Homo sapiens: one gene and its partner. The protein of the gene in region 1 interacts with the protein of each later gene in a biochemical or structural test. Each region holds a gene or a part of one and is shown on either strand. Other genes may lie near its edges.

Region 1 (3,657 bases):
AGATCTATATGTTTCTATAACATATAAAATTACTTGGTTTTTTTCTTTTTAAAATTTTTTCTTTTTATTCTTTTTTTTTTTTTTGAGACAAGGTCTTGCTTTATTGCTGAGGCTAGAGTACAGTGACTCTTCACAGGCACAGTCATAGCACACTACAGCCTCAAACTCCTGCCCTCAAGCAGTCCTCCTGCCTCAGCCTCCTGATTAGCTGGGACTACAGAAAAGTACTTGTTTTTCAACCAATGACATTTACTCTGTATGTATGTCTGTATGTGTATACAGATAATCAGCTATGAGAATATAGCCTTGCCTCTTGTTTTCTACTACTACTTTCCACTCCTACTTTTCCTTGCACAATGTTATTTTCAATGCTGCCTTTGAACTTAAGAGTGAGATTCATTGATGATAATTGAAGTATTTTAGGCTTGAAAAAAAATTCATCTCCTGCTTGGTCAGTTCTGTTATAAGCAAGGAGATTAAGGGCATGAATAGGATGCTTACTTATCTTTGCCTTCAGTATCTCTCCCCCTCTTCCCCACACACAAAAATGCACTCCAGACTGCTCTTCACATCTTCCTTCAGGGCGTATCCTGGATCTAAAGACTGGAACAGTGAAAAAGGAAGGTCAGCAGTCTTCCATGAGAATGTGTATGGGCTCAAGGAGATCGTTTATTTGCCGAATGAGGTGAGTGTCAAGCTGAGGATTGTGATTTGGTATAGGAAGGATCAAGAGCTGAGAGTTTTATTTCTGTCAGAGTTAAGTTGGATTAGCTCCAGTGGATTAAATTTAACTCTCCATACCCAGATGGATTGTAACACAGAATAAAGTATTTGGAAAGGGAACTAACGTTTCTGAACTTGCCAGACACTATGATAGGTGCTTTATATCTGTCATCTTATTTTATCCTCACAATTGCCTTGTAGTGTAAGATTGATGGTTACCATTTTGCAGATGGAAAAACAGATATAAAGAAATGAACTTGGCCAGGTGCAGTGGCTCAAGGCTGTAATCCCAGCACTTTAGGAGGCTGAGGCGAGTGGATCACCTGAGGTCAGGAGTTTGAGACCAGCCTGGCCAACATGGTGAAACCCCATCTCTACTAAAAAAAAACAACAACAAAATTAGACGGGCGTGGTGGCGTGCGCCCATAATCCCAGCCACTTGGAGGCTGAGGCAGGACAATTGCTTGAACCCAGGAGGTGGAGGTTGCAGTGAGCCGAGATTGTGCCATTACACTCCAGCCTAGGCAAAAAGAGTGAAACTCTGTCTCAAAAAAAAAAAAAAGAAAAAGAAAAAGAAATGAATTTCCCACTGTTACATACTGTTTGATACAGGATTTTGTTTTAATTCATAGTAGTCTGACTACAAAACCTCTACTTTTTCCCTGTTACAACACAAGGCAATATCCATTTACTCAGACCATTTCTTCTTTTTTTTTTTGGTTAGAAATTTGAGACTTCCTATGTCTTTCAGTAGGTGTTTAGTGTTTATAAATTATATACTGTACGTTTTAGGATTCTGTAGAAAATATGGTGGTCCTTTCTATACAGGTACAAAAGGCATCTCAGGGTCACAAAGTTCAGGCTATATAATGGAAATTGACTACATTGTACTGAGAGGATAGTTGCTAGAAATTATGGGTAGGATATTAAAGGTTTGCTTGGAGAGGCACAAAATTGAACATTATGTGGTTTAGTGATTTATTTTTATTTTTATTTATTTATTTTTTTGAGACAGAGTCTTGCTCTGTTGCCCAGGCTGGAGTGCAGTGGCATGATCTTGGGTCATTACAACCTCTACCTCCTGGGTTCAAGCGATTCTCATGCCTCAGTTTCCTGAGTAGCTGGATTGCCACCACAGCTGGCTAATTTTTGTATTTTTAGTAAAACAGTGTTTCACCATGTTGGCCAGGCTGGCCTCAAACTCTTGACCTCAAGTGATTCGCCTGCGTCAGCCTCCCAAAGTGCTGAGATTACAGGCCTGAACCACTGCACCCAGCGTGTAATTTAGAGTAGCTTCTAGACCCAGACTGCTGGATTTTGTTTTAATCCATATTCTATGGATTTGAATTCTAGCTTTGATGCTATCTTCTGAAACCTTGGATGATTACATGACTACATTGTGCTTTGATTTCATCATCTCACATTGGCGATAATGTTAATACTGACTTTATAAAGTTGTTATGAAGATTAGATGAATTAATATATGTAAAGATATTTAGAACAGAGCATGACACATATTAACCCTATGTAAGTTTTATTTTTGTTTTAAAGGATAGGGAGAGGGAAAGTAGCATTGGCAGGAGTATCCCAATATGTGGACATGGCTAATGCAAAGACATAGGCAAGAGCAAGATAATAATGAACTGTAGCAATTACATTAAGTTGTGGTTAATGTAGAGCAGGAGTAAGCAAACCACAGCCCTTTATTTGTAAATAAAGTTTTATTGGAACATAGCCATGCCCATATTTTTACATATTATCTATGGCTATTTTCATGCTATAATGCTAGAGTTGACTAGTTGCAACAGACTTTCTGGCCCGCAAAGCTGAAAATATGTACTATCTGGTCCTTTACAGAAAAAGCTTGCCAACTCTTGATGTTGAGAATGTTTGCATATGAAGAACATATGGAACATTTTGACTTCAAATTCTAAAAGTTTTAGAAATACTAAACTTGACCTATCTTTATCCTTCATTATTAGTAGCATTACCAATTTTCTATGTCTGGTTGTATCCAGAGCATGTTATTCTGCTATTACTGTGGAAAGTTCTTTGATAGGGCAGTCTGATTGCTTTTAATCTCTTTATTCCTTGAAACAGGTGTGGCAGTAGCTCTGTGGACCCAGTTTCTGTGAATAGGCTGAGCTTTGTGAGGAACAGATGCAGGTGAGATCCTAAGTGGTGAAAACCAAAGGGATGGCCAAATACCTGCAGAGATCATCACATTTTTACCTGTCTTACTGTAGTCGTTCCTTCAGCAGCTCTCACTTGCATCCCTTACCTCCCACTTAACATCCCTTACCTCCCACTTACTTTTTTTCTGGCAATATTTTCCTAAACTTCTAAAACTTCTCTTGAAAATCCTGTTTAAGGAAGTCGCTATGCTATTTTACCTACTTTCCTCCTACTGCATACCTTTTGGTTACTTTACTTTGGCAAGGGTAAAAATGTGGCGGTCATTTTTGGGTGGGAAAGATGATTATCCTGTTTTCTAAACTCCTAAGAGCATAAACTTAAAAGTACTAAGGCAGCATTGCCCTTTGAGTTTTACGGGTAGATTTTTTTTTTTTTTTTCAAACTCCTGTAACTCTTCTAGGAATGGACTTGGCTCTGTAAAGGATGGGGAACCTCACTTCGTGGTGGTCCACTGCACAGGCTACATCAAGGCCTGGCCCCCAGCAGGTAAGAAAGTGAAATAGTAAATATTTCCCCTTGGTACAGTTGGTTCCTCACAGAGTCCATGAAAGCTAATATTTATTATATACCTGGTATATGAAATGTACTTTTGTGTAAGATGAAAGAAAATAGGAAAAGAAAATGTACAATCCTTCCCTTCCATTATTGAGCTTTTATTCCAGTTGAGGAGATAGATAACTCAGGCTGGAAAATGATTCAGTATTGGCTGTGTCACAGAATGTGGTTTTTATGTGAACA
Region 2 (3,588 bases), on another chromosome or scaffold:
GGAAATAGATAATTATATAAATAAAAATATTTCTTCTCTTTTGTTGTCTAGGTTGAGTACCTTGTACAGCAGAATGTAATACCACCGTTCTGTAATTTACTGTCAGTGAAAGATTCTCAAGTGGTTCAGGTGGTTCTAGATGGTCTAAAAAACATTCTGATAATGGCCGGTGATGAAGCAAGCACAATAGCTGAAATAATAGAGGAATGTGGAGGTAAGAGTGGATTGATGGAAGAAGAGTATTTGAGCACTGGAACTCTGAAACATAAGTTCTTTAAAGTCAACTTACTAGACAGAAAATTACTAGGATACGTTGTTTTTAAATGATCACAGTATGTTGCTTTTCTTTATTCACTATATTTGCATTCCAAGAGGATTTTCCAGAAGACAGTAGTCCATACTTTGCAAAATCAGGTTGTGAAAGTCACTGTATAGCCTTCTAGAGATTGACAACATAGCTTTTTTTTTTTTTTTTGGAGACAGAATCTTGCTCTGTCGCCCAGGCTGGAGTGCAGTGGCACAATCTCAGCTCATTGCAACCTCTGCCTCCCGAGTTCAAGCAATTCTCACACCTCAGCCTCCCAGGTAGCCGGGATTACAGGCGCACACCACCACACCCAGTGGATTTTTGTGTTTTTAATAGAGACGAGGTTTCACCATGTTGGCCAGGCTGGTCTCGAACTCCTGACCTCAAGTGATCCACCTGCCTCAGCGTCCCAAAGTGCTGGGATTACAGGCATGAGCCACTGCGCCTGGCCTGACATTGCATTTTAGGAAACACTAATACTTCTCTTGAAGTCACAGTGCATGACAGCAAATTTAAGAGCCCTTACAACACTACATAAATTTTAAAGCTTTATTTAATCCAGCATTTCTTAAACTTCTTAACAATGAAACACTTTTTTTGTGTGTTATTACCATGTAATTCTGTGGACCCCACTTTAGGAAATATTATTTCATATAGTTGGAAAAGGTTACTGACTTCTGAGTCACCTAGATATTTTGTTTCAATCTTGTAATGATTCTTAGGATTTCCACAACTACATCCTGAAGTTATTACTGTGGCAGTTACTTTGAAATTTTAATGAGAAATAATTGTGATTTGACATACTGTATTATTCTTTAATGACATGTGAAACATATGTTAAAATTCTGTTTTTAAATGTACATGTTCAATATGTACTAACATGTTTAAACCTTAAATTAGTTTATCATAATGTCATGTTTTAGATTTTACATTTCATTGACTACTTTATATGAATATTCTATTGTTTATTTATTTATTTATTTTAAGAGAAAACAAATGCAGTAGTACCGTAGAATATTCAGACTGGGAGGATTTCTTTCTTTCTATTTATTTATTTATTTATTTATTTATTTATTTATTTATTTATTTATTTTTTATTTATTTATTTTTTTTTTGAGACAGAGTTTCGCTCTTGTTGCCCAGGCTGGAGTGTAATGGCTCACCGCAACCTCCGTCTCCCGGGTTTAAGCAATTCTCCTACCTCAGCCTCCCTAGTAGCTGGGATTATAGGCATGCACCACCACGCCCGGCTAAATTTTTGTATTTTTAGTAGAGGCAGGGTTTCTCCGTGTTGGTCAGGCTGGTCTTAAACTCCCAACCTCGGGTGATCTGCCCGCCTCGGCTTCCCAAAGTGCTGGGATTACAGGCGTGAGCCACTGCACCCAGCCGGGAGGGTTTCTTGAGAAGAAATTATCCCACAGATTTTAAGGAGTCTTGTCCAAGGTGACAGAAGTAGGTTGTGATAGAAGCAAAGTTAAAATCCAGATCTTCTTACTATTAAGATAATTAAAAATTGTAGTCAGGTTCATAACACAGTAAGTTTGAGCAACTTAGAGAATTACTACTCTTCAGCTTTTTATCAATATAGTTACTTTTGTCTATAGGAGTAATAGGATACATATTAATATTTTATAATTGTATAAAGCACTTTGGCAACGATTTCCCCCATTCTTTTGGTTTATTAGTATATAAGAAAAAATTGCAACTATTTTAAAATAACCTTCAAAAAGACATTTCAAGGAAGAATATTAAGGTGTGAAATTGATAAACATGTATATGATGTGTGGAGTAAATATATTGGAAATATAAATGAAGGCATTCTATGATATCTGTTCTGGAAATATTTTCTCCCAGGTTCATTGTGGCTATAGGACATAAGACCTCTATTCATTTTTTAAAGAAAGTTTTTCAAAATTTAAATCTTTATATCTTTTATACCAATTATAAGGTTCTAAAAACTCATTTTGTGGTTATATAAAGGTAATAACATTTGGAAAACAAAGAGAAAGATACAAATTACTTTATGAGGCAGTAAGATTAATAAGATTGGCCGGGTGCAGTGGCTCACTCCTGTAATCCCAGCACTTTGGGAGGCCAAGGCGGGCGAATCACGAGGTCAGGAGTTCGAGACCAGCCTGGCCAACATGGTGAAACCCCGTCTCTACTAAAAACACAAAAAATTAGCTGGGCATAGTGGTGGGCACCTGTAATCCCAGCTACTTGGGAGGCTGAGGCAGGAGACACTTGAACCCAGGAGGTGGAGGTTGCAGTGAGCCGAGACGTGCCACTGCACTCCAGCCCTGGCTACAGAGTGAGACTCCGTCTCAAAAAAAAAAAAAAAAAAGAAAGAAAGAAAAAATGCCCAGGCGCAGTGGCTCACGCCTGTAATCCCAGCACTTTGGGAGGCCGAGGTGGGCAGATCACGAGGTCAGGAGATCAAGATCATCCTGGCTAACATAGTGAAACCCCGTCTCTGCTAAAAATAGAAAAACTTAGCCGGGTGTGGTGGCGGGCGCCTGTAGTCCCAGCTACTTGGGAGGCTTAGGCGGGAGAATGGCATGAACCCAGGAGGCGGAGCTTGCAGTGAGCCGAGATCACACCTCTGCACTCTGCACTCCAGCCTGGGTGACAGAGCGAGACTCCGTCTCAAAAAAAAAATAGATTAGTAAATTTATATTAAAGCACTGTGGGGGAGTTGGTTCTAGTACTGTCACAAACTTGCCATATAACTTGAAATAAGTCTCTTTACATATTTATGCCACAGCTTCCCTCTGTCAAATGGATTGTTTGGGTGTTTTTTTAGACTGTCTGCCTCAGGGATCCGGGTACCTCAAGGGCTTCTAAGAAGGAAAAAATTAGTGGGATTCTGGTCCTCCAACTAGAAGCAGCCCCGTGTTTTGTCTGTTTTTTAGACAAACCACTATCTTAGATGGGGGAGCAGTGTGTTCTGAGTTCCTTAGGATTTCTCCATGATTAAAATGAGTGTGGTTTTGATTAGTATCTCCTTATCAATTAACCAGTTATTTTGATTATTTTATTTTTACCAGGTTTGGAGAAAATTGAAGTTTTACAGCAACATGAAAATGAAGACATATATAAATTAGCATTTGAAATCATAGATCAGTATTTCTCTGGTGATGATGTAAGTAGATATTAAAATAGCGTGTATCTTCATGTAAATGAAAACCTATACATGATGTAAATTTACTAAGAGTTTTCCTTTTATTATTAGGATGACATAAGTTTGTACTGTATTTCTATTAGACATTCCATCAGTCACT

The links. The genes of interacting proteins can lie anywhere in the genome.
Region 2: the proteins of ARNT (region 1) and KPNA3 form a complex in vitro, tested with the Homo sapiens proteins (one study listed by BioGRID).

What each region holds. Positions count from the first base shown.
Region 1 is NC_000001.11:150,831,566-150,835,222, reverse strand, and holds part of ARNT (aryl hydrocarbon receptor nuclear translocator), read left to right. Parts: intron 1-582; coding exon 583-685; intron 686-2,823; coding exon 2,824-2,889; intron 2,890-3,319; coding exon 3,320-3,405; intron 3,406-3,657. UniProt on the Homo sapiens protein: Required for activity of the AHR. Upon ligand binding, AHR translocates into the nucleus, where it heterodimerizes with ARNT and induces transcription by binding to xenobiotic response elements (XRE).
Region 2 is NC_000013.11:49,702,247-49,705,834, reverse strand, and holds part of KPNA3 (importin subunit alpha-4), read left to right. Parts: intron 1-51; coding exon 52-214; intron 215-3,354; coding exon 3,355-3,449; intron 3,450-3,588. UniProt on the Homo sapiens protein: Functions in nuclear protein import as an adapter protein for nuclear receptor KPNB1. Binds specifically and directly to substrates containing either a simple or bipartite NLS motif.